Linked DNA regions of Homo sapiens: regions 2, 3, 4 and 5 are each linked to region 1. Evidence: fine-mapped expression QTL. A gene starts in region 1. Each other region holds a variant in brackets. All regions are shown on one strand. Distances are between the middles of the regions.

Region 1 (5,102 bases):
GGGGATTCCTGGACCCAATGGATGTCAGAAGTGATGCATTTGGGGTGTCAAGTCTTGGCAGGTCTGATTGTTTGACTCATGACCCTGAGGTACCGTAATTGTCCTAAGTGCCTTCTGAATCCTCAAAACAACATGCAGATCTGCTCTGTGTGCCTTTTTTTTTTTAAAGAGCAGTTTTAGATTCACAGCAAAATTGAGCAGAAAGTACGGAGACTTACCATATATCCCCTGTGCCTACACATACGTAGCCTCCCCCGTTACTGACATCCCCCACAAGAGCAGTCAATTTGTTGTAATTGATGAACCTGCGTTGACACATCATCATCACCCAAAGTCCATAGTTTTCATCAGGGTTCACTCTTGGTGATGGACATTCTGTGGGTTTGCACAAACGCACAATGACATGCCTCTACCATTACAGTGTCATACAGAAGTTTCACTGCCCTAAAAGTCTCTGGGCTCCTCCCATTCTCTCCTCCCTCCCCTAATTCCTGGCAACCACTGATTTTTTTTATTTTTTACTGTCTTCATAGTTTTGCCTTTTTCCAGAATGTCACATATAGTTGAAATCATACAGCATATGCCTTTTCAGAGTAGCTTCATTCACTTAGTGATAGGTTCTGTATGCTTTTTTATTGCCTGCTATATGAGCAATATTTATTTATTCATTTAACCATTCAGCATTTCAGCAAACACTGATCCATCCATGTTGGGCTAGGCATCGTTTTCAGTGCAGAGGAGGCAGCTTGAGCGGATAGACAAGGCCCCTACTTTCATTCTGAAAACCAGAGTCCCCCGGTGCTATGATCCAAATGCCTGTGTCCCTCCAAAATTCACCTGTTGAGACTTAATCTCCAAGCTGGTGATATTAAAAGGTGAGACTTCTGGGGGGAGATTAGATCATGAGGTCCCCCTCCTTGTGAATGGGATTGGTGGTCTTTAAAGGAGGCCTGGGAGAGCGTGTTCACCCTTCCACCATATGAGGATGCATAGAAGGTGCCATCTATGACGACTAGGTCCTCACCAGACACCCAATCTGCCAGTGCCTTGATCTCGGGCTTCCCAGCCTCCAGCACCGAGAGCAATAAATGTCTGTTTTTTGATAAATTACCCAGTCTAAAGTATTTCTTATAGCAGCTCAAACAGGCTATGACACTGGGCAAATCTGCAGGGCTCCCCCCACCGCGCCCAGGTGGGCCCCTCCCTGACCACAAGCAGCACAGGTGAGGAGGCCGCCCTAATGTTACCTCTGGAGCCACCAAACTTGTTACTGAGCCAGTCACTGTGTTAGCAAAAACCACGTGGCACAGCTATTCGGTTGGTGCAAAAGTCATTGCGGTTTTTGGCATTACTTCTAATGGCAAGAACCGAGATGACTTTTGCACCAACCTAATATTTCCAGGTTGGGTCCCACCGGCAGGCAAATACCACTTTCAAAGTCCTCAGATCCATCATGCAGGCCCAACCATGGGAACCTCCCCGTTTGCAAGGGAGGGAATCCCAAAGAGATTGAGGCATTTCCCTGGACACTGAGCGAAGGGCTGGCTGAGGTCATGTTCCCCCTCTGAGACTCAGTTTCCTCATCAGTGCAGTGAGAGGCTTGGAGTGCAGGGTTGCAGGGAGAGCTGGGATGAGGCCTGGGGTGCTGCCTGTGGGGACAGCACGCATGCTTCCTCTTTTTCATCCAAAGACGCCTTCTCTTGGCTGTCCCCTGCTCTCACCCCAAGCAGGGGAAACAGCAAATGCTTCCTCCAAGCTTGTGGGGCTCACAACTGTGGAATGTCTCTTGCTGCTGCCAGGGCCCGAAGGACGCAGCACAGTTTTTTCTCCAGAGAACCTCGGGCAGGGCCTCTTTGCAATGTCCTCTGGGGTTGCTTACCTGTTCCCCCACCACCTAAGCCCTTCTCCAACTCAGAAATGGAATTAGGGGCGGGGTTGGCCAGGGAGGCCCCCATCACCCCACACCCAGGCCAGGGCTCCCACTTCCTGTAGGCTGGGGAGCCACAGGCGGCCTGTGACTCAGTGAGGCACATTCTGACCTGCCTGGAACAGCAACACCTGCTGTTCACCTCCACCCAGGCTGCGGAAACGACCTACTCTCAGCAACTCGAATCACGGCTGCCATTTATTTAGTGCCTATGACATACGTGGTGCTTCACAGGCAAGAGCCTACCTCTATCTTTGCATAAAGAGGAACTTCCAGGTCTTCTTTATAGCTCAGGAGACAGGACAAAATAACTCGCCCAAAAACGTCACCCACAGGGTGAGAGCAGGGCTGGAGCTGCAACCTGGGCCGGATGCAAAGCCGGTGCTTGGAACCCCTGCACCATCCTATCCCCCTGCCCTGGTCAGCCAGGACCGTGGGAAGAGGGTCTCTAAGCCCATCTGAGGTAGTCACTACCACCTGCCTCCTGGAGGCGCATCAGCCAACATTCACAAACCCCCCCACCCCCGCCTGCTTCTGATTTAACCCTGCCACCCCCAGGGAGCCAGCGAGCTGGCTGCTTTGCAGACAGAGAAACTGAGGCTCAGAGAGGTTGAATAGCTTGTCCAGGGTCACACAGGGCCAAGGAGTGGCACAGCTGTGGGTGAAAAGCCAGGTTCTGGAGCCTCCACCCAGCACCCGTCCCTGCTGCACCACACACACCTCGCTGCCTTACTCCAAGGTGTCCACTCAAAGTATGTGAAAATCCAATCACGAAATCCCTCACACACTGGACACACACAAGCCTGTCTGTCACCTTGATTCAGAGAAGAGAAACCTACAACAGACAAACAGGGCGATTCCTCCTGCTGGGAACCCTTCTCCCCATCGCCTGTCAGACCTCCCCTCCGGAAGGAAGGGAACTTTTCCCAACTCCCCACGACCACAGGGAAACTTCTCCCCGCTGCCTGCCCTCCCTCCCTCCCTCTGTGCTGGGACAGTTTGTCCTCCCAGCAGAGGTGAGGCGGCTGGAGCAGCCCCTGCCCGGCACCCACCTTCTCCGGAGCAAGCGGCATGGGCACTTCAGTCGCTCCCTGGTACTGCGGGGCAGCCTGATGTCCCCACCGTCCCCACCGTCCCCACCCCTCCTCGGAGCCCAGAAGCCAGAGCTGGAGTGGCGGCGGGAACAGCTCATCTTTCAAGGGCTGGGTAGTGATGTCATCAGCCTCCTGGGCACTTCCCCCTCCGCCTCCAGCTGAGCTCTGCACTCCTGCCCAGCTGGAGCCAGGCTGGCTGTGGGGCCGGGAAGGCTGCGGCCACCTTCGCTCTCCGCTCTGCCACCCTCTGAGCCCTGGGGGCCAGGGAGGCTCTTGGAAGATTTCCATGTTTGCGTAGCCCGGCTGCCCGTTGGAGTCGTGGGACGGCAAAAACGTCCCTCCCGGCTGACCACAAAGTGGCCTGGGAAGCCCCATGTGAATAAATTTGCCTCGCGTAACATTTATTTCTTATCATTATTTATCTTCTTGAGGTGGTTATTTTGTGTCTGAGTTTTGGATGTAAACAGTGGGCGTTTACGCGGAAGGTGTAAACAGAGGGTGGCCAGGTGGGCAGGCGGAGTCCTGGGATTTCTTTGTATGCCACGTACGGCTCCCAAGGGCGACAGTGGCAGAAGCTGTCCTGTTTCCTGGGTACGGGTGTTTGCGCTCCCCTGAGACACGCGGCCGTTTCTTCGGAGATGTATGGCGGAGGTTTCTCCCATGTCAAGGCTCAGGCTGGCTTTCTCAGTTTTGCTCAAAGACTTACTAACTATCTGCAGCACTTTACACTCCCAGGGCTGAGACGGTAGGAGCTGGAAAGGGCAGGGACTTTCAAAACATTTTTTTTTGAAGCCTTAAAACCCTTCCTTCAGAAGAGAACAGATAAGAGTGGGCCCAGTGGATCTGGGGAAGAGACAGGAGGGCCAGAGGACGTCCCCCCAGCCCATCAGCTCCTCTTCCCTGTGACTTGATTCATAACAAGCCTACAAACCAGCAATCAAGCCTGATCCCATCATCATGGAGACAGGGAAACAGAGTCTCAGATCAGTTTATGGGTGGCCTGGGCGCTAGCCCTGGCTTGGCTGTGAACTGGCTGTAGGCTCTTGAGTGAAGGCCCTCCCTGGCCTGGCTGTGTGGTTGACTCATCTGTGCACCTGGCTGTTCAACCACATTGGGGCTCCTTAATCTGGAGTTTCCTGACTTGCCAGTTGGGGACAGAGGTCTATGGACAGGCTGCCCAGAGTCCACAAGCCCTCTGAAAAGGTGTGTCTGTGCTTTATCCCCTATGGAGCCTCATCTATAGCTTTCACTAAAATATTGAAGAGCTCTGAGATCCACAACATATTGAGACCTGCATGAGCGTCCAGAGACCCTCTGAAGTCTCTTCCAACTTAGATATTGTAGAGCTCTGTATCTATGAGTTGAAAATCCTCAAGGATCTGAATCCAATGTTGATGCTTCTGTAAATATCATTGACAGAAATCTCTAAAAGACATCTGTCCATCTGCACACATCTCCATCCATCTCTGTCATATAGTTTTTTAAAAAGGCTACTTTAAACCAGTTTTGAGGTCCTGGCTGGAGGCCAGCCAGTTCATGAGCAGCTGATTAAGTTCACATTCTGGCCCTTTCTCTTACCAGGTTCTCACACTCTGGGCCACTAGCCACCTGCCCTGATGGCCTTGGAGCCAGGTACCAAACAATAATGGACAGCTCCCATCATCTGGAACTCACAAACTTATTTAAGTTAGCCAATCCATAGGGAGCCAAGGAAACCTCGTTAACACCACCCTACGTGCCACACATAGCTGCCGCCTATAGCTCCAGCTTGCTTGGACCCTGTCCCCAGTTGCACATCCTGTGTGGCCCAGCCTGACAGCCTCTCATTTGGAGCTGTAAGAAACAAAAGTTCTACCTTTCATTTATCTGAGTGTCACTGTGTTGTGTCCTGCCATCAAAAGAATATTTTAATCTTATAAAACAATTACACACTCTTCCATTCATCTACACTGGTATCTACCCACACATCCGCCCACCTGCCTATCCACCTATCCAACCATTCATTTACTTATTCGCCTGTCTGTCTGTCCATCCGTCTATCCATCCAACCATCCATCCATCCATCCATCTGTCCGTCCATC
Region 2 (5,102 bases), 59 kb before region 1:
CTCACTATATCCATCCTTTAACACACTGATCTCACTTCACTTCCTTCTCTCCCTGTGCTCGTTTCTTCCCTCTCCATCATTCCCCCGAGTCTGACCAGGATCCCCAACTCCCATGACGTATGGCCGTCTATCTGGCTAAACCCTACTCCAGAGCAATCCTTTCCTGGGTCTGTCGAGCATTATCAGAGTAAATTCACACAACACAGCCACGCTTTCCAGCTTCAATGGGGCCCTCAAAGCTGCCTGGAGCCCACCATCCTTCCTGGGTGAACTGTCTTTGCCAGCTGACCATGGTGGACCCAGCCTGTCCATTCTCCTCCAGCCCCAATTCTCTCCATGACCCGCCTCCTCCTCTGCCATCCTTCAACCTCTCCCTCCTAACCTGTAACCCCACCTGCCTCTGGGCCTACTTTGTTCCTTCTGTCTGGAACACTCCTTTCCCCCATTTTGCTTGGCCAGCTTCTCATTTTTTGGGATTCAGTTTATGTGTCTCTTCCTCCAGGAACCCCTCTCTAACCATCCCTCCCAGCCACCCAGACTGGAGCCCTGCTCTGGTTCTCACGGCACCCCTCACCCTGATGGTGGCGGGCATCCTGCTCTATGACAATCCCTTAATTATTGTCCTGGTTGCTGTGAGCCCCTGGAGGGTAGAGACACCGTTAGGCTCACCGTTGGGTCTCTCATAGCAAGACCCGCACCAATGCATTACACGTTCAATAAGAGCATGCACAAGCATTCTTTTGTGAGCAGCTCACCCTTTCCCGCCTCTGCCAGCCCTTCCTCCCTGTCTCCACGTATCCAGATTGCACCCTTTGTGGAAACCAGGCTCACGGCTGACTCCCTTCACAGCGTCTTCTCTGCTAACCTGAGAGGGAACCCATCCCCTTTCTCGCTGAAGGCGCAAGATGCTGGATCCGTGGTGTGTTCATGCAATTTCTCATTTCATTTTTTATATTATAATATTTAGATGTATGTAAGTTCCTTGAATATAGAACTTCTAGCTATACCATCCCTGTATTCCTGGCAGTTAGCCTAGAAAGCTTTGAATAGACAAATGGAAGTGTAATAAGAGAGGCCATTACCCGATACTTGTTATTTGTTTCCTGCTGCTGCTATGACAAATTACCAGAAACTCGGTGGCTTAAAATACAAATGGGGCCAGGCGCAGTGGCCACGCCTATAATCCTAGCACTATGGGAGACCAAAGTGGAGGATCACTTGAGCCCTTGAGTTTGAGACCAGCCTAGGCAATGCAGGAAGACACCATCTCTACAAAAAATAGAAAAGTTAGCCAGGCATGGTGGTGCACACCTGTAGTCTCAGCTACAGGAGGCTGAGGTGGGAGGATCCCTTGAGTCTGGGAAGTTGAGGCTGCAGTGAGCCGTGATTGTGCCAGTGCACTCCAGCCTGGGTGACAGAGCGAGACCCCATCTCAAAAAAGCAAAGCAAAGCAAAGCAAACAAAGCAAAACAAAACACAAATGTATCCTCTAACAGTTCTGGAGGCCAGAAATCCTAAATCTGTTTCCCTGGGCTGAAGACAGGGAGTTGGCAGGACCCATTCCTTCTGGAGGCTCCAGGGGAGAAGCCATTTCCTTGCCCTTTACAGCCTCTAGAGGGTGCCTGCAATCCTTGGCTCGTAGTGGCCGTCCTGAATTCCTCTGGCCTCTGCTTCCATAGTCACATCTCCTGACTCTGAGCCTCCTGCCTCCCTCCTATAAGGACCCTTGTGATTATATAGGGCCCACTTGGATAATTCAGGATCATCTCCCCATCTCAAGACCCTTAATTTGGTAACATTCATCAAGTCCAGGGATTAGGTACCCCCCAATCTACGGGAGTAATCATTTAGCCTATCACAATAGCATTTATTATGTCACAAAGAATTGATAAGAAAGCCAAGCTTCTTGGTTCAATGCTGTTTTAATTCCGCCAGAAAAGTTGGAAGATTTCTTTCCTATGGGATGAAGATATTGGAGCAAGACTTTTAGGGGTGCATTGTTTATAAAGTTCCCAGACCTTGGTCCTGAAGAGCCGGCCCACAAAGACATAAATTACTGGATTCAGGGAGCTGTTAGTGAAGGCAAAGAAGTTGGCCAATTGCAGGCCCAGGTCAATGAAGTCCTCCCAAAAGCAGCCTCGGACTGCTTGCACCTGGAATAAGAATTCCAGGAAGGCAAAGAAGTGGTAAGGGGCCCAGCAGACCAGGAAGGCAACCACGAGCGTGAGGATCAGCGCTGTGGTCTTGCTATCCTTGCGGCCCCCGCACCTTGTCCTGCTGACCTCCTCCCGCGTTCGCAGGGAGGCCAGGATGTGGTAGTTGAAGAAGACGATCGCAGCCAGTGGTAGGAGGAAACCCAGAATATTTAACTCCACAATCCTTGCAAAGTGCCAGGCCTCATGGGGGAGGAGCAGGATGCAGGCGGTGATGTTCAGATCTGGGACGGCTTGGATGGATCGCAGCAGGAATGTGGGGATGCTCAAGAGGCCCCCCACAACCCAGATGAGCACGCAGGTGACCCGGGCCTGCCTCCGCCGCTGCTGCCTCCGGCTGGCCATAGGGTGCACCAGCACGCGGTAGCGGTCCTGGCTGATGGCCACCACCAGGAAGATGCTGATGAACAAATTGGCCTTGATGACCCCGTTGATGACACGGCAGAGGAGGGCTCCGAAAGGCCAGTTAAACTGGTTCCAGATATTCTCTGCCCAGAAGGGCAAGCCCAAGACAAACACCAGATCAGAGGCTGCCAGGTTGGCCAGGTAGATTTCTGCCACGTTCAGTTGCCGCCGGGGCAGGAGGAAGACCAACAGGACAAAAAGGTTCCCTAGGAGGCCGAAGAAACAGATGGAGATGATAAATGT[T/C]GGCAGCACTCTGTGCAGCAGGTCCCAGGCTTCTGGAGCATTGTCACAGGCCGTAGCATTTTGAGGGAAGAGCTGGCTCTGGTTGGAGGATTGGAGCTCTAGAGGGGGCCAGGATGATGCCATGCACAGTGACCTGAAATGAACAGAAGGTAGAATAAAACAGGAAGTGGCAGACTACAGCCTATGAGCCAAACCAACCTGTCACCTGTTTTTGGACAATAAAGTTTTATTGGCACAGAGCCACACCCATTCCTGGACGTATTATCTACAGCTGTGTTCATGCTACAAGGGGGAGTCGAGCGCTTGTAACAGAGACTGTCTGGCTTGCAAAGCTGAAGATATTTACCATCTGTTCCTGAGGGGGAAAAGTTTGCTGACCTCTGGTTTAAGGGATGGTGCCTGAGTCCAAATCCCGGTACAATCACTCAGTGTGAGCTACTTAGAACCATTGACTTTTACTTTCCTTTTTAAACATTGGAGAGAATCGTGTCTCTCTTGTGGGATCACGGGAGGGCTGTTGTCAGGATCTACAGGGTGCTTAGCTCCGTGCCTTGCATAGAGGAAAGACTTTGGAAGGTAGTGATTAGTCTTAGTAACAACTGTACCATTATTATTATTACTATTAGGGTTTTAACAGGCATTTAATGAGCCTCTACCTCTTGCCAGCCCCTTGCCAGGCACTGGAGATATGCAGGACAGAGCAGCCCCAGCCTCATGGGGCTGCAGACATGGAGGCAGAGGTCATGGCTTGAGATAGAGCTGAGGGAAGCCCGGGAACAGCAAAGGAAGCTGACCTGTTGGGGCTGGGACCAGTGTGGTGGCCGGGGTGGGGACAGTGCTAGGAGGTTCCTCTTACAGGCTTGAAAAACATGAGTATTGGCCGGGTGTGGTGGTTCACACCTGTAATCTCAGTACTTTGGGAGGCCAAGGCAGATGGATCAGATGAACCCAGGAGTTCAAGACCAGCCTGGGCAACATGGTGAAATCCTGTCTTTACAAAAAATACAAAAATTAGCTGGGCATGGTGGTGCATACCTGTGGTCCCAGCAACTCGAGAGGCTGAGGTGGGAGAATCGTTTAAGCCTGGAAGGTCGAGGCTGCAGCGAGCTATGATTGTGCCACTGCACTTCAGTCTGGGCCGACGGACTGAGACCCTGTCTCAACAACAACAACAACAACAAAAAAAAAAAAAAAAAAAAGGAGAGAGAGAGAGAGAAAAGAAAAAAGAGAAAGGAAAGCATGAGTAATAAATAAGGATAACAACTAACATCTGTTAGATGGTATTAATGGTCTGTGTTCCAGGCGCCATTCTAAGTGTTTCACATTTAAGTATTTTCTCATTTAATCTTCCTGGCAGCCATTCAAGGTAGGGGCCATTGTCATCTCCAGTTGGCCAATTAGAAAATTGAGTGCTGAGACCCGGAGTCGCCTGTCTGAGGTCACACAGCTGGTCAGTAGGGCCTGGATTCAAACCCAGGCAGTCTGATTCAAGAGCCTGATTGAGATCCTGTGCTTCTGTCTGCTCTCTTCTGCTGCACCTGTCCCCACGCGATGAATGACAAAGCCAGGCTCAGAGAAGTTAACCAGCTTGTCGGAGAAGACCTAGGTGGTGGTTACAGTGCTACGCCAGGAACCTTGGTCTGCATGGACCCCAGAGGCCGTGCTCACAGCCATGCAGCTGACTGGCCTCCCACGCTTGCTGGAGGAGCTACAGCTGGTGGGTACAGTGTACACTATGAACCTTGGTCTGCATGCACCCCATAGCTCATGTTCATAGCCACGCAGCTGACCTGCCTCCCATGCTCCCATGCTGAGTTTCACCGGGAGAGGGATAGAAAGCTCTGTCTCTTTCCATAGGGAGGACTGCATCTCCCAGCCCTCTGCGATCCCACAAGGGGTAGATCCCATCCTGTGCTCATGGCTTCGTGGCCTCCTGCTGGCAAAACCGGCCACAGCCAACTCAGGGATCCACAGAATACTATCTGCAGAATGAGCAGCTGCCTACACTGCGGGATTTATGCGGCTCCAGACAATCTTCAGAGCCTAAACATTCTTCCCCAGCTTGGATAGGTTAATATACGCCCGGTGCTTGGCAGGGTTCCTGACTTATTGTAAGCACGTGGCAAACATTAGTTGTCACTGTCATGATTGTTATTAATGGGTGACACCTGAGATTCCTTCAACCCCGCAAAGCCTCACAGATACCAACAAAAGCTATTGTGTAGCAGAGAATTAACCTTG
Region 3 (5,102 bases), 28 kb after region 1:
TCTTCCTAATAGTAATAATTTCTTTCGTTTATGATTTCAGTTCTTTATAGTGTTCAGTGGACTCTTGCATATTTCATTGGTTCTTTTATTTATTCTATTCTCCATCAGCTCTGATCCCACCTCCTTTCTGCCAAGTGCTGGCAAGGCTCTGGATGGCGCAGAGGGGAGACAGATCCTGGATCATGCATTTGTGTATCCCTGAATTCAGGAATAAAGTCAGGAGTGAATTGATGGAGTGCCTTCCTGGTGGGCCCAGGCTATGAAGGGCTTCGCACATCATGCCGTGGGGTCTGGGTGGCTTCCTGTTGGCCTAGGTGTGCGCTGGAACAGAGTCAGAAGCTCACTGAGGTGAGGGATGGTTGTAGCTGGGTGAACATGAAGTTGAGGGCTCCGGAAGACATCTGGGGAAGGCCGCTGAAGCCCAGGACATGCCAGGGGTCTAGAGACCAAGGTCTGATCTGAGACCAGACTGTGTCCAACCCAGGGCTCTGTCTGGAACTTCATTTCTTAGCCACCAGATGGCCTGGCTGCTGGGACTTTCCCGCTGTGCCATCTTCAAGCACATGGAAGGGCTCTACCTGCACGGGTGGGTCTAGAGCCCTGTGGGTTTCCCCCAGCTGCAACTTTGGAGCAGGCCGGGAACTCTGCAGGCAAACAACTTGCTTGGATTTATCATTTGTGTTGCTCAGCATCTGGGAGCATAAACAAGGCCATGGGTGCCAGCTGTGGTTACCTCTTAGCAAGGATCAGGATGTCTGTGCAAAACCTGTCACCCTGACTCGCTGTGAGTGGGTGTGGGGCATGCACACGTGCACCCATGCACACACATATCACACACAAACACACTCACACTGCTACAGCGCAATTGAATTCCTTGCCCCAAATGCAGAGCTGCTTTGTATGTCTCCCTTCTCTGCATTCCTGGTGTCAGGGAGCTTCCATTTTTTGCTGAAATCAATTTAGGAGCAAGAAAAAAAATGAATGTGGAAAGTGTAGCTGCATTTCCAAACTGCTTTTGTCAGGGGAACAGGGTCTGGCTCTGTCACCCAGGCTGGAGTGCAGTGGAGCGATCATACCTCACTGCAATCTCGACCTCTTTCCTCAGTCTCCTTAGTATCTGGGACTACAGGCAAGAGCCAACATGCCTGGCTAATTTTTTTTTTTTAAATTATTTGTAGAGATGAGGTCTGGCCATGTTACCCAGGCTGGAACATAAACTTTAAAAAATTTTGTAAGCAACCAAAGCCTTTTTCCAACAAAATCTTAGATTGATAAAAACAAAGTTGCTCAGGTTGAAGCCAGGTAGGGCCCAGAGCCCTGGTCACTGGGCAGCCCCCCTCATCCCCCAGTGTTGTTTAAGAAATTCTGGAAAAACACAGATGAGAAAGGACAGGCACTGGCAGAGGAGCTCTCGGAAGGAACGCCCTGGGCTCAAAGATCTGCTCAGGGTCCTGGCTCTGCCGCGATTTGTGTGTGGGTGGAGCAGGGTACGCCCCACCCTCTCAGGACCTGAGCTTCCCCTCCGTGTACTGAACTTGTGATGAAGCCTGGCATGTGAGCGGCCTCAGGAAACCCCCCTCCCCTGCCTGTTTCTCTGTTAAACCCAAGTGCTCTCTGAGTCGGTTTCTAATATTGTGATTTCATGGTGGAAGCCTCATCACTGATAAAATAGGACACTATAAAAAGTTAAGCAATATTTAGGGATAATGTACTGGCCTTCCAGAAGAACTGCAGTGGCTATTTGCACGCTCACCTCCTCCTAAACTCTGCCTTCAAGCTTAAGCCGTTATGCACTTTTGGTCTTCAAAGCTATCTTAGGAAACTTGGGACAAAGCAGAGTAAGAAGGGACTTTTGACTCACATGCATCTGTGTTAACTCTTTCAAGGCCAAGACTGCCATTTTCAAAAATTCAATTGAGATAGAGCTGGAAGGGACCTTTTTTACATTTTACAGATTGGGCAACTGAGGCCCAAGGGGAGGGGGGTCAAGTTAGTGGCAGAGCCAGCAGGTGCTCCGAGGGCTCCTGACTCTGTATGGTGCAGAGAGTTTAAGAGCAAAGGCTTCAAAGTGAAAAAGACCCGCCATGGAATCCTAGCTCAGCCAACTAAAAACCAGGAGATGGTGGGCAAGTTATTTAAACTCATTGAACTTCATTTTTATCCTTTGATCAGTGAGAGTAATTCCCAGTTCGTAAGGCTAATGTTGGAATTAACTAAGATGATGGTTATAAAGTGCTTGGCCTAGTGCCAAGCCCAAGAAAAGTGCTGGAAAATGTCAACTGTGGTATTATCACCCCCATTGTCTAGATTAGGAAATCAAGGCTCAGGAAGGTTCAGCTCCTTGCTGTGGCGTGATCCCGGAGTTTGTACCCCTGACCACGACACCACATTGTTTTCGCAGAGGGACAAAACTGCTTTCCAAATTTCTTTCAATAAGAGCATTG[T/C]ATGTCTTGGAAATAAATTCCTGGACAGGCACTTGGAATGGAAGCTGAGCCCCCAGGGCCTGCGTGTGGGCAGAAACATCCTCCTTCAGACCACGGGAGATGCTGACTACTCTGATGTGTGTGAGCATGTGTGTGTGTGTGTGTGTGTGTGTGTGCACATGCACTCACGCTGAGGTCAGTGGGGTGAGAAAAAGAGAGGAACGGTGAGCCCCAGCTTGGCAGAGAGCAATGCACGCACACTGCCCCTCTTCCTCCTGCTCCTCTGTGCCTTAAATTGCTCAACTCACAAAATTTGGCAGCTGAAGCAAAGCCTGAGCTTCACGTTCAGAGAGCTGAGGCCAGGAAACAGTCAGTCCCTCCGGGATACAGGAGTGCAGCGCTGGAGATTCAAGCTGTCAAACAGCCAGAAAAATCATTTTGAGGGTTGGAGGGTGGGGTGGGGAGGAATCCTTGGGAGGCTCAGTGCCCACACGTTGGGAGTTTGGGTGAAATTCCTCCAAATCCCCAAGAGGCAGGGAGACCCCAACTAAACCCTTGGTTTTGTGTATGCAAACCAGTTAAATTAGTTTTTCAGGAACCTGGATAAATGGCCTGAGAAAGTTGCTCTTCCCATCCATGATGGCGGACATCCTTCTGCTGAGTCTGTTGCCCTGGGGCACTTGTCAGTATGAGCGCTCAGCCCCAGGACCAAATCCACCAAGAATTAAATGTCCCTTCCCCTCAGCTTCTGGCAGAACCTTAGCCTCCTGAATCATCTGAGACTTTCCACTTCCTACAGATGCTCTGAATATTTCCTAATCTGACCCCATCACCCATCCTTCCTTGCTTATCCACCCCTTCCTGTGAGCCATCCAAAACTCTTGGTTTATCATGAGTTCTGATCATTTCACCCTCTTATACCATCCCAAACTTGGCTGTCTGTTGAAAGTCCTGCTTTCCCCCAAATCTTCTTACGTGGCTAATTCTTTCTATCACACTCCATAATTGCAGGATCTGGAAGTAGTAGGGCCAATACCTTCCTTGCCCTCCAGCCAGTCCCCTACCTGTCTCCTTCCTTTTCAAAGCCCCTTTGACAGGCATGGTCCTTCTTCATGACCCCGACTCCTGCCAGCTGTCATTTCCTGACTGCCCCATCACCCTCCTTGCTCACCGATATTGTTAGTACTGGATTCACTGGCTCTTTCTCCACCACCACCCCCATCATGGTTCTTGGCACATGAAAATTCATAGATCTTAAAGCGGAGCCTGAGGTTGGATTCTTGCTCAGATGATTTACTGGGGAGTACTCCCATGAAAAGGGGGGCAAAGGAAGCAGGATACAGCAGGTGGAAAAAGCTAAGCAGGTGGTCTGGTTGGAGCCCAGCTTCTGCCTCATCCCATGGGGGGCTCTGGCGCACCAATGAGTTAGTGCCTCTATCTCCGGGGCAAACTTTGTGGCAGCCATGAGGCTGGCATTGGCCAAGGTCTGCAGAGTGCACAGAGCACAGCCTCCTGGGGTCTGGAAAGGGCTTGGACAGGGCACCAGCAGCAGCCACTTCGCTGTCTAATCCCAAGCATTTCCAGTTGCCTGATCTCAAGGGACAGCCAGTGATCATCTCTGCCACCCAGCCCAGCCACCCATCGAGTCTCGCTCTGTTGCCCAGGCTGGAGTGCAGTGGCACGATTTTGGCTCACTGCACCCTCTGCCTGCCGGGTTCAATCCATTCTCCTGCCTCAGCCTCCAGAGCAGCTGGGATTACAGGCATGTATAACCATATCTGGCTAATTTTTGTATTTTTTTTAGTAGAGACAGGGTTTTACCATGTTGGCCAGGCTGGTCTTGAACTCCTGACTTCAGGTGATCCACTTGCCTTGGCCTCCCAAAGTGTTGGGATTGCAGGCGTGAGCCACTGCGCCCAACCCCCATTCAGTCTTGATTCCAAGAATCCCTCTTGCTATCGTCTCCTATTTTTCCACCTCATGACCTTCCAAAACATCTCTGCCCCAACTCTGCTCTTCCTCAGCCCTCACCTGGAAGCTGATTATGGCTGGGAAACATCGTACAATGCTGCTAGTTGCTCTCACTTTAAATTTAGGAGCACAGATCTCTAGAGGGCAATGAACACTTTCTCTAAATCCATCACACTTCCCTAGAAATGTACTCTTTCACTTTCCTAGTTCACCACTCCTTCCTCTACATCTTCCACGGTGCTTTCTTCTCTCTCTCTTGGCCAGTGGCCTCCTGTCATGTTTGATAGAGAGAGTCTATGTACTCAGATGAGAAGTGCTCAGCAGGTCCCAGCCTGCCAGCATGTTTGGTCTCCACATGCTCCACGTGGAAGATGGGTCTCTGCTTCTAAGCACATGGCTCAGGATCCCTTTCCCTCTCCCCCTCTCCAGGACTTTGTTTCTCTACTTATTTCCATCTCTTTCCCCTGTCATCAATGACACCTTCCTGCCAGACGTCCCTAAGTAGCCCGCACAGCCCCTTTTGAACACCCCTGGATTGTCCATCTTCTTCTGTTCACCACCTCCTTTTCTGCCTCCTTCACAGCACCTCGAAGAGTCACGTTGGCTGCTGGCTCACGTTCTCACCCTCTCCTAGAGCCTCTCTACCTGGGTTCTTGTCTCCATCATACCCCATGAGATGGTTCTACTGGTAACTGATGCCTTATGTGG
Region 4 (5,102 bases), 40 kb before region 1:
ATGAGAAAAGAGACACTCAGAGAAATTCACTGACCTTCTTCAAATTCCCACAGCTGGGAAGTGGCAGAGGTAAGATGTGAACCAGGAACCTGCCTCCAAGCCCCTGTACTGTTGGTGCTGGGGCCTTCGTAAACTATAGAGGACAGCATCAACATCACATAAGGCAGTCCTTCGAGACCACTGATCTACATGCCAGAAACCTGTTAGAGTCATGACTTATTATCTCTCCACTTGACAGACGAGAAAACTAAGGCCAAAGGTGGTGGGAGGGAAGATGAGTAAAGTGGCTTGCTGAGATCACACAAGTGGCATGGTAGGGAACCCATGGACTGGTCCCCAAAATTCTCCCCCAACAATTAAACATTCTAGCTCAGTGTTAGGAGGTAAAAGGAGCTAGACACAAAAGGCATGTGTTATAGGCTCTACAGAGACAGCATCCTACAACATGTGCCTGGCTTCTTTCACAACAGGTAAATCTAGAGACAGAAAGATTAGTGGTTGCCCAAAGCCATGAGGAAGGGAGAATGGGACGTGACTGTTAATGAATATGCGATTTCTTGGGGGATGATGAAAGTGTTCTGGAATTAGACAGTAGTGATGGTTGCATGAATTGGTTATTAAGTAAAAGCTGAAGTGGGTAAACTCTACGGCATGTGAATTACATCCACCAGCTCTGGGAAGGTGATCTGCAGGAAGCAAGTATGCACAAGGCCTATGAGATGCAAAGCTTTTATTGTGGCAGAAATAGCCCAAGCCCTGGGTCATAAGCTCGTCATGCAAGAAGGCACTTCGAGGACTTTTCCTGTGACAGAATTTGTATCCTCGGTTTGTTAAGGCATGAACACCCCAAGAACAGAGAGAATTTCCAGAGCACCCTCCTTAAGAACTGCATGGCCTTGGAAAGTTACTTCCCTCTCTGGGCCCCAGTTTCCATACCATGAACCAGTGATCATGCAAACTCCCAGAGTGGTTGTGAGCGTGAAGTATTTTGATGGGGTCCCTTTGACCTGGGACTATTTTGCCTCAGCCAGCAAAACAAAATAAAAAACTAAAACCAGAATAAAACTCTCATGAACAAACGATTAAACTTTCAGCCATTGCTGTTGCCAAATCATGACCTCTGTTGCTCATCCCTGCTCCCCACCCTCATCCTTGGTGAAGGATCAGAGCTACATAAGGGTCAGGAATTGGGTAACAAGGAGATAATGCAGCACATGGCTGGGATCTACACAATGGAGACACTCCCCCTCTGAGTCATGAAGGCTGTGCTCAAGAGGCTCCAGCACTAGCATGAATTCCCATGAGGTCATCTGGTGTCCAGTTTGCATCTCTGCATCCTATTCTCACCCCTCTGTGGCCAGGGAAGACTCAGGAGCTAGGCCCCTTGCCTGGTCTCCTGAGCCCACCTGGACTTCTTCTCATTGCGCCAGCTTGCTGGAGCCAGAGAGGGTCAGGAGTTGAGGGGCTGCTCCTGTTGCCTCGCTGGGGAGGCTCTCCCAGCATTTTTTTTTTCTTTTTTTGCCTGCTAAGAGCCCTGCTCAGGTTTCCAGGCATGTGGTTTCCCCTGGATTGCAGACTCCCTTGAGTAATGCAGGCATCTGTGAACAAAATTCCCTGGAGGAGTGAGCTCCCTTGGGCACTTGTGGACAACTTCCTCCAAGTTCAGGGCACTTAGTGAGGGGGTGCAGTCTGGGTGGGAAGAGTGGGCACTGGAGGCAGAATGAAATATCTTCTGGGATCTGTCTAGGTTCTTGTGTCCAAATGGCTGGAGGGTAGAGAATGAGCCTGGAGCAGAGAGAGGGAGACATAGAGACAAGACAGGGACCAGATCATGAAGGGTCTTGCAAGCCATGTTACAGCTGTAGAACCTTATCGCAAGAGGGGTGGGACACTATGGAAGGGTTTCCCTTGGAGGATGCCCCCATCACACTCACTGCCAACACCACCACCA[T/C]CATCATCATCATCATCATCATCATCATCATCAAAGCTAGTACATGTTCAGTGCCAACTATGTACCAGGCACTGTGCTAGATGCTTTCATACATTAATCCTATTAACAATTTTATGAGGTAGATACCATTATTATCCCCATTTTGCAGACAAGGAAATGTTGACTCAGAAAGGATAACTGAGGTACCCAAGACTACACAGCAAATAAGAGCCCAAGGCTGAACCACAAGTGGAATCCAGGTCTACCTAATCCTAAAGTCTTGGCTCCTGAACACAGTTCTCTATGTTTATAGCCTCCCCATGAATGTATTTGCATTCTTAAAAGACCATGTTGGCTGCAGAGTGAAGAATAAGAATTGGGAGATGGTAGTAGTTAGTATTGGAGGCACCCATGACAGACGATGGTTGGACATAGAAGGAAACATAGATTTAGGAAACACTTAGTGAGTAGAATCTAAAAGAGGTGCTGATCCTATTACTGGGTATATACCCAAAGGAATATAAATCATTCTATCATAAATACACATGCACATGAGTGCTCACTGCAGCACTATTCACAATGGCAAAGGCATGGAGTCAATGTAAGTGCCCATCAATTATAGACTGGATAAAGAAAATGCGGTACATATACAACCATGGAACACTATGCAGCCATAAAAAAGAATGAGATCATGTCCTCTGCGGGGACATGGATGGAGCTGGAGGCCATTATTCTTAGCGAACTAACCCAAGAACAGAAAACCAAATACCACATGTTCTCATTTGTAAGTGGGAGCTAAATGGTGAGAACACATGGACACAAAGAAGGGAACAACAGACACTGAGGTCTAGTGGAGGGTGGGGGTTGGGAGGAGGGAGAGGAGCAGGAAAAATAACTAATGGGTAGTAGGCTTAATGCTTGGGTGATGAAATAATCTGTACAACAAACCACCATGACCCAAGTTTATCTATGTAACAAACCTGCACGTGTACCCCTGAACTCAAAATAAAAGTTAGAAAAAAATAAAAGAGGTGCTGACCCACCAGATGGAACAGATGAAGGAGAGGGTACGTTGAGCGATGAGCCCCAGGTTCCTGGCATGGATGGATGGATGCATGGATGGAGGAGGGGCATTTATGGAGACAGACTAGGCAAGTTTTGTTTAATAAATGAGTGAAGGAATGAATACATGAATAATGAAGGGATCCCAAAGTGGCATGGATAATGAATTCCCCATCACTGGGAGTATGAAACAAGTGGCTTTTCATCAGGATATTGTAGAAGATACTCCTGATTTGAAGGGAAGTCAAGTGGTAGGCACTCAGTAAGTCTATATTGCATGAATAAATGATTGAATCGCTGCTGCGCCTATGATTCTAGGCCTCATGAGGGTCTCACATTCATGTAGTGGGAACTTGGTAATGAGTTATCCCTGCAGAAATGTAAGATGGAAGGAAATATTCAAGCACTGTTAATATTTTTTTTTTTTACATCTTCTTTCTTAAATTTCTACTGGTTGATTATATTTTAGAATGTACATCTTCATACAGATTAATAAGTATACATACTGGGTATGCATAATCAATTCTTTTTTTCCTATAGGAATATACAATCACAAAAGCTTGGAGACCACTGATCTACATGCCAGAAGCCTGTTAACAGATTGAGCAGAAATGAATAGCACCCCTTCCCAAAGGCTTCTGAGTGTGCAAGGCGGTACCCCAGGGACCAAACTCGGGGGTTTCGGGAGTTGTAACAAATGCTAGAGCTATGCAAAAACCTCATCCATTTATTATGCTCTACAGAAAAGACACATGTTTACATGATTTTCTCGTTTGGATGTGAAATGCTTCCTGTTTACAACATAACAGCTCATTGAGTCTTTCACAGGACAGATGTTCTTTATCAGGGCATCTACACCATGCATAGGGCCGCTCTTCTCCCGCAGACTCAGTTGCCCCTCAGACCAGGTGTGGATCCCCACATGGCCATTGCGGCAGAGCTCTGCTCCTAAGAGAGTCTCAGACCATCACGTGCTCTGGTGCTGAATGACTGCCCTGTGTGACAAAACACAGCCTCTTTTTTTTTTTTTCATTCACCATGTGTGGCACAGTTTGACTTCATTCTAATACTAATACTAAATGGTTTTTACTTCTTCTTTCACCTGTTTTCTTCCTCCAGATACTTACTGAGGCAGAGGAGAGTGGGTGGTGGGAAAAAAGAGTGGGTTGGGGGTAAGGAGGGAATCTTTTTTTTGACGCTTTTGCTTTAAAATTCAGAGTTGGATTGGTCAGGATTTATGGGCTCTTTGCCATGTAAATTTTTCTCATTCTCCAGGTTCTAGCCCTCCAGGTTCATTCCCTCCAGGTTCTAGCTTGCCAGGTTCTAGCCTGCCGGGTTCTAGCTCTCCATGTTCTAGCTCTACAGGTTCTAGCCCTTCCAGGTTCTAGCCCTCCAGGTTCTGGCTCTCCAGGTTCTAGCCCTTCTAGGTTCTAACCTGCCAGGTTCTAGCCCTCCAGGTTCTAGCCCTTCTAGGTTCTAGCCCTCCAGGTTCTAGCCCTCCAGGTTCTAGCTCTCCAGATTCCAGCCCTCCAGGTTCTAGCCCTTCTAGGTTCTAGCCCTCCAGGTTCTAGCCCTCCAGGTTCTAGCTCTCCAGATTCCAGCCCTCCAGGTTCTAGCCCTTCTAGGTTCTAGCTCTCCAGGTTCTAGCCCTCCAGGTTCTAGCTCTCCAGATTCTAGCCCTCCAGGTTCTAGCTCTCCAGATTCTAGCCCTCCAGGTTCTAGCCCTCCAGGTTCTAGCTCTCCAGATTCCAGCCCTCCAGGTTCTAGTCCTCCAGCTTCTAGCTCAGGTTTTAGCTTCTCTAGGTTCTAGCCCCTCCAGGTTCTAGCCCTTCTTGGTTCTAGCCTCTCCAGTTCTAGCCCTCCAGGTTCTAGTTCTCCAGGTTCTAGCTCTCCAGGTTCTAGCTCTCCAACCAGCTAATAAATATTCATTTATCAAGTGAATGAGTGCTGCCCTGGCACTGCCGATGGTGAACACCATTGCCATTCCTTTTCACACTCTTCTAGGGCTCATACTGGGCCACCTTCCAATAAACCATTGATTGACAGGAACAATCCCTTGGTTGCTGAGACAGGAACAGTCCCTGAGCAGGCCTGCACTCTCCCCCTTCCC
Region 5 (5,102 bases), 26 kb before region 1:
ATGTTGAATATTTTAAGTGGAAAGAATCCAAGAAACAGCAGGCGCAGAAGGACTATGTGATTGTTCCCTGAAGCAGGACACCAGACTCCACAGCCAGAGGAAAGGGGCACCGTCCACTCCGAGCACTGGGGACACTGAGAGGAGCCCCGACAGGCCTTGCTGTTTCTCCAGTTCTCTGTACTTCGCTCGTGCCCCCTGGTCCCACCACAGCCCCATGATTCTCCACTGTTCATGACATCTAATGGAAACACTCAGGCCGGTCACAGTGGTTCATGCCTGTGACCCCAGCACTTTGGGAGGCTGAGGCAGGCGGATCGCTTGAGCCCAGGAGTGGGAGACCAGCCTGGCCAACACAGCCGAGACTGTGTCTACAAAAAGTACCAAAAAATTAGGTGAGCGTGGTGGCACACACCTGTAGTCCTGGTCCTAACTACCTGGGAGGCTGAGGTGGGAGGATCAGCTGAGCCCGGGGTGATCGAGGCTGCAGTGAGCCGTATCGCACCACTGCACTCCAGCCTGGGCTATAGAGCGAGACTCTGTCTCAAAAAAACAAAAAGGCACTCAGGCTTAATCACTTCATTTCCTTATGAAGGTTCCCATGTCACATTAAACTTACATTAAATTAATTTGTTCACTTTTCTCTTGTTCATCTGTTTTTTGTTTCAGGGCCCCCAACCAAGAACTCGGAAGTGGAGAAGGAAAAGATATTTTTCCTTCGGATGTCAACTTGTGTCCCGTATTTTCTGACTGCACGTTAGAGCTGGGAAGCATTTCCCAGCAAGGGAAGTAGTTTGGCCTGGTAAACAACCTTGAATTGAATAATCTAGTCGTTCCTCCTGATTAGGCCAACAAGAACGTCTCAGCGTGGTGTCCGTGCACTTCAACGCCTTTCTATGTGCGTAATCTCCTTTTTCAACAGACTGAGCAGGTTCAGAGCCTTGGCTGGTCCCCGAATCTACCCAGGCTCTAATAGCATTGTTCACATTCTATTGCTTTTATTTTGTACAGTTATCATCTTTTTTATGATAAGTGATACTCATTTTCCATTTAAATTGGTGACATGAAGTTGCAGTTCAAAAGTAAGTCACTACTAAAGAAATGGTTGTACAGGTGACATGGATGTGGCAAAAACTGTGAACGTGAATGTCAATGGCTAAGTGTGGGAAACACAGCCTGAAAGCCTCTAGCTGGAAACGTGCATTACGGACGGGAAGCCAGCCTGGCGGTTAGGCCGATGGGCTCTGGAAGCTGACTGTGAATTGAGTCCTCCTCTCTAGAGCTCGTTATTTAACCTCATTGCACCTCGTTTTTTTCAACTATACAGTGGGGATTGGTATTTTAAACAGCCCCATCTCCTAGGGTGCTGTGTGGAGTAGACGAGTCCGTGTGTGTCAGATGCATGGAGCACGTGGTCAATGTGTTCGAGAACATAAGCTGTTCTTCCTGCACCAGCCCAGGAGGCCCGTCTGCTTTAGCTACACCAGGGGCTGTGGGGTGTCAGGGATTCCCTTCCACCTGGCCAGATCTCCTGCTCACAGGCCAGCTGAGGTTTCCAGTCATTCATTACACAGCCGGATGGAGAGATGGGGGATTTTGCTGGGACGCCACCAGTCTGTCCATCCAGGAGAGCTCTTGAGACAGCTGGGCTCCATCCTTAGTCAGAGGGCGGCTGTTCTCCCTCTCCCTCTGCATCTCCTATCTCCTCTCAGTGGCAGCTGAGCACATGGTGTGCGTGCATGCGTGCATAAAGTGCATGTGCATCTGTCCCACCATATTCGCTGTACTTGGAGAGGAGGACCCTGCCTTGCTCATCTTCCCACCCTGCATCACGCCTGCAGCTGAGTTTTGCACATCCCAAACTCTTGAACAATATTCGCTCTGTAAATAAGTGAAATCCTTCAGACCACCCAGCAAGTCGATGTCAAGGCCAGAGCTAGAAAGAACCAAGATCTCCTGAATCCTTTCCCTGACACCTCCCCAGAATAAATGTTTTCCTCTAAAAGCTGATTGACGTGGTTACTGAGTCTGGATGCTGTTTTTAGGGCAGTCACGAAGGTAAGCCTCAGGCCACAGCAGGCAGGGGGTGGCGGAAGGGGGTGATGGCGCCTCATAAACCATATGAGCCTCAACAACCAGAGCTGCGTGGCCCTCAGCAGGGTTTCCAAGAGTCCCTTTTCTTTTCTTCCCTGAAAAGAAGGCCAAAGCTGTCTGTAGGGGGAAGACGGGGTTCTGGGAAGTGACCTCCATTCTCAGAACTCCCAAAGAGAATTGAGTCAGAAGATTTGATTCAATCCCAGACATATACATGTAAGTCCTTCCAGCATTTGGACACTTTATGGGCCTGGAATGTTCTGGAAACACTTTCAGTGGGGACATGAGGGAGCCTGGAGAAGCAGAGCCCCTCATCCATCCTGCTTTCTGCAAGGGAGGAGGAGGCCTGCCGGCCTGGCTTTGCTCACCCTTGGATACCCCGGAACTTATTTTATTCTTGGCTTTTTTTCCTGTTCACTGTG[G/C]TTAGATTATTCTGCTCAGTGTGTTTTGTTTCTTTCCCCAAACTGGGCTTTTCAGTTTTATTAAATAAGCAATTTCATTTGACATCCTAATACCACTCATTCCCCTTAAAAAAAATAACATCTCTCTCTTTAAAAAAAAAATAAATAAATAAATAACTAGGCTGGGTGCTGTGGCTCACGCCTGTAATCCCAGCACTTTGGGAGGCCAAGGCAGGTGGATCACCTGAGGTCAGAAGTTCAAGACAAGCCTGGCCAACATGGTGAAACCTCACTTCTACAAAAATACAAAAATTAGCTGGGCATGATGGTGGGTGCCTATAATCCCAGCTACTTGGGGGGCTGAGGCAGGAGAATCGCTTGAACCGGGAGGCAGAGGTTGCAGTGAGCTGAGATCCCACCGTTGCACTCCAACCTAGGTGACGGAGCGAGACTCCATCTCAAAAAAAAAAAAAAACTACAGCAAAGAGCATTTAAAACTAATATTAAGCCCCGTCTCTACTAAAAATATAAAAATTAGCTGGGTGTGGTGGCGGGCGCCTATAATCCCAGCTACTTGGGGGGCTGAGGCGGGAGAATCACTTGAACCCAGGAGGCAGAGGTTGCAGTGAGCCGAGATCGCACCGTTGCACTCCAGCCTGGGCGACAGAGCGAGACTCCGTCTCAAAAACATAAAAATAAAAGAATAACTACATGAAAGAGCATTTAAAACTAATGGGAAAATCTCCCAGAGTTCCATCCCTGGGCACAGCTGTTTATGTATGCCACATCCAACTATGTTCTGTCACCGTGGTTTTACATGAAACCTCCTGTCATGGGAATTTATCCGTGTTGCTCCATCATGGCTGTAGTAATGACGCCTTCAAAAAAGGCATTGCATTTGTTTATTTTTGTTTACTAAACCATTCCTTTATTCCAATCCTTTTTAATTTTTTTTTTTTGTTGAGACGGAGTCTCGCTCTGTAGCCCAGGCTGGAGTGCAGTGGCATGATCTCGGCTCACTGCAAGCTCTGCCTCCCGGGTTCACGCCATTCTCCTGCCTCAGCCTCCCGAGTAGTTGGTACTACAGGCGCCCGCCACCACACCTGGCTAATTTTTTTTTTTTGTATTTTTAGAAGAGACAGGGTTTCACCGTGTTAGCCAGGATGGTCTTGATCTCCTGACCTCATGATCCACCTGCCTCGGCCTCCCAAAGTGCTGGGATTACAGGCGTGAGCCACCAATCCTTTTTAATTTAATTTTATTTTCAATTTAATTTAATTTAATTTAATAGTGCCACAGCCACGTTGCTGTACTCCCTGATCTCCAAGGACCTCTTCTACAATCTGCCCTAGGAGCCTTTGCTGGGTCTGCCCCCTGCCCGGGTGCCCTGCCTGATTCTGCTCTGTCACTAACCCTCCGTGGCCGCCTCTAGGTGCTCTGCTGCGGTGAGTCTGTGGGTCCACCTGGCTGGATGACAGGCCCCAGTTATTCCATTTCAAGCTAATCTTGGTGTTGGGGTGAAGCAGTTTGTCTGTGTGGTGACAGCCCACAGCCAGCTGGCTTTCACTAAGGAAGCTTGTCCTCAACTCCCTGCATGGGCCTGAGTCAATCAGTTGAAAGGACTTAGAGCAGATCTGAGGTTTCCTGGAAGAAGAAGAAATTCAGCTTGCGGGCAGGAGCTTCGGTCCAAGGCTGAGTGTTCTGGCATTCCCAAGCGACTTCTGACTTGCCTAGTCATCCCTACAATCACATAAGCCAGTTCCTTGCAATACATCTCTTAATCTGTGTCTCCTATTGGTTCTGTTTCTCTGACTGATATCCCCCTGCAAGCAGAAGGTTCTCTTCCACCTCTACCTGCCTCCTGCTTCTATAACATTTATTATAGGGTATAGCTATAAGAGTTGCTTGTGTTGTTATTTCATTTCTCTGTCAAGTGCCTGACACCTAGTAGGTGTTTAATAAATGGTCGTTGACTGACTGATAGAGGGCAGGGTGTGATCCTTATTTCTCCTCTTCTCCCCAGCAGACATAATTGCTGGGTGGAGGCAAAAGGAAATGGAGCTCACAGTGTGCCCCACCTGTTCCAGCCTCAACACTGCACTGAGTGGCTGATGCATTGCTATTCCCATGTTCCAGATGGGAAAGCAGAGTCAGCGAGGCAACCTGAGACAGTTCAGGTCACCCTGCTCATCAGAGGCAGGGCCAGGATTCAAGCCTGGGTCTGCCTGAGGCCAAGTGTCAAGTCCTTTCTCTGGCTCTGGATTGGCTCCCACCCAGTGAGGTTCTTGGTGCAGGTGATATGGACAGGAGGCAGGGAAATACTGGGTAGAGGAGGACAGCTCTCTGGCAAAAGCCCCACCCACAAGCCTGGGCCCACGGCCCTAAATGAGAACTTCACATTCCTGTTTTCCCACCTGAGTGTTGCTTTTGCCAAAACCACCCTGGCCCACCATGCCCCCCATCCTATACCCATAAAAACCCCAAACTCCACTGGCAGAGGAGCAGAGCAGCATGGCAGAGAAGGAGAGAAGAGAAGAAGTGTCTGAATGTGGAAGAGGCAGCTGGACAGTTGGAGAAGAGTTCAGCCATCTGGAAGAGTACCTTCCCACT

Direction of the effects. Alleles are on the strand shown, and positions count from the first base shown. SD is a standard deviation of normalised expression in the study named. Not every link is listed here.
As copies of T replace C in region 3, the expression in fibroblasts of the gene that starts at base 3,100 in region 1 goes down (moderate effect, 0.46 SD a copy in GTEx).

The links. PIP is the estimated chance that this variant, and not a neighbour inherited with it, causes the effect.
Region 2: its variant is fine-mapped to the expression of BDKRB2 in cerebellar hemisphere (GTEx, PIP above 0.99). The same link has a PIP of 0.9 or more in cerebellum.
Region 3: its variant is fine-mapped to the expression of BDKRB2 in fibroblasts (GTEx, PIP above 0.99).
Region 4: its variant is fine-mapped to the expression of BDKRB2 in prefrontal cortex (ROSMAP, PIP 0.95).
Region 5: its variant is fine-mapped to the expression of BDKRB2 in breast (GTEx, PIP above 0.99).

Annotation. Positions count from the first base shown.
Region 1 is chr14:96,202,837-96,207,938 of GRCh38, reverse strand. It overlaps BDKRB2 (bradykinin receptor B2), which reads right to left and starts at 3,100. Exons shown (of 3, transcript NM_001379692.1): 1 at 2,980-3,100. RefSeq lists an enhancer at 2,764-3,639.
Region 2 is chr14:96,261,565-96,266,666 of GRCh38, reverse strand. BDKRB1 (bradykinin receptor B1) reads right to left here. Exons shown (of 3, transcript NM_000710.4): 2 at 3,897-4,015; 3 at 1,904-2,994. The coding sequence starts at 2,984. The coding sequence ends at 1,923. All of the region lies in intron 1 of BDKRB1-AS1 (BDKRB1 antisense RNA 1), which reads left to right. Among named protein-coding and RNA genes, the nearest start is that of BDKRB1-AS1, 4.5 kb to the left of the region's middle. The variant T/C (reference allele first, on the strand shown) is at 2,862.
Region 3 is chr14:96,174,557-96,179,658 of GRCh38, reverse strand. No RefSeq gene overlaps it. Among named protein-coding and RNA genes, the nearest start is that of BDKRB2, 28 kb to the left of the region's middle. RefSeq lists an enhancer at 3,473-3,973. The variant T/C (reference allele first, on the strand shown) is at 2,445.
Region 4 is chr14:96,242,764-96,247,865 of GRCh38, reverse strand. BDKRB2 (bradykinin receptor B2) reads right to left here. Exons shown (of 3, transcript NM_001379692.1): 3 at 3,702-5,102. Among named protein-coding and RNA genes, the nearest start is that of BDKRB1, 11 kb to the left of the region's middle. The variant T/C (reference allele first, on the strand shown) is at 1,952.
Region 5 is chr14:96,228,486-96,233,587 of GRCh38, reverse strand. The region is part of intron 1 of BDKRB2 (bradykinin receptor B2); the gene reads right to left. Among named protein-coding and RNA genes, the nearest start is that of BDKRB1, 25 kb to the left of the region's middle. RefSeq lists a silencer at 2,061-2,256. The variant G/C (reference allele first, on the strand shown) is at 2,514.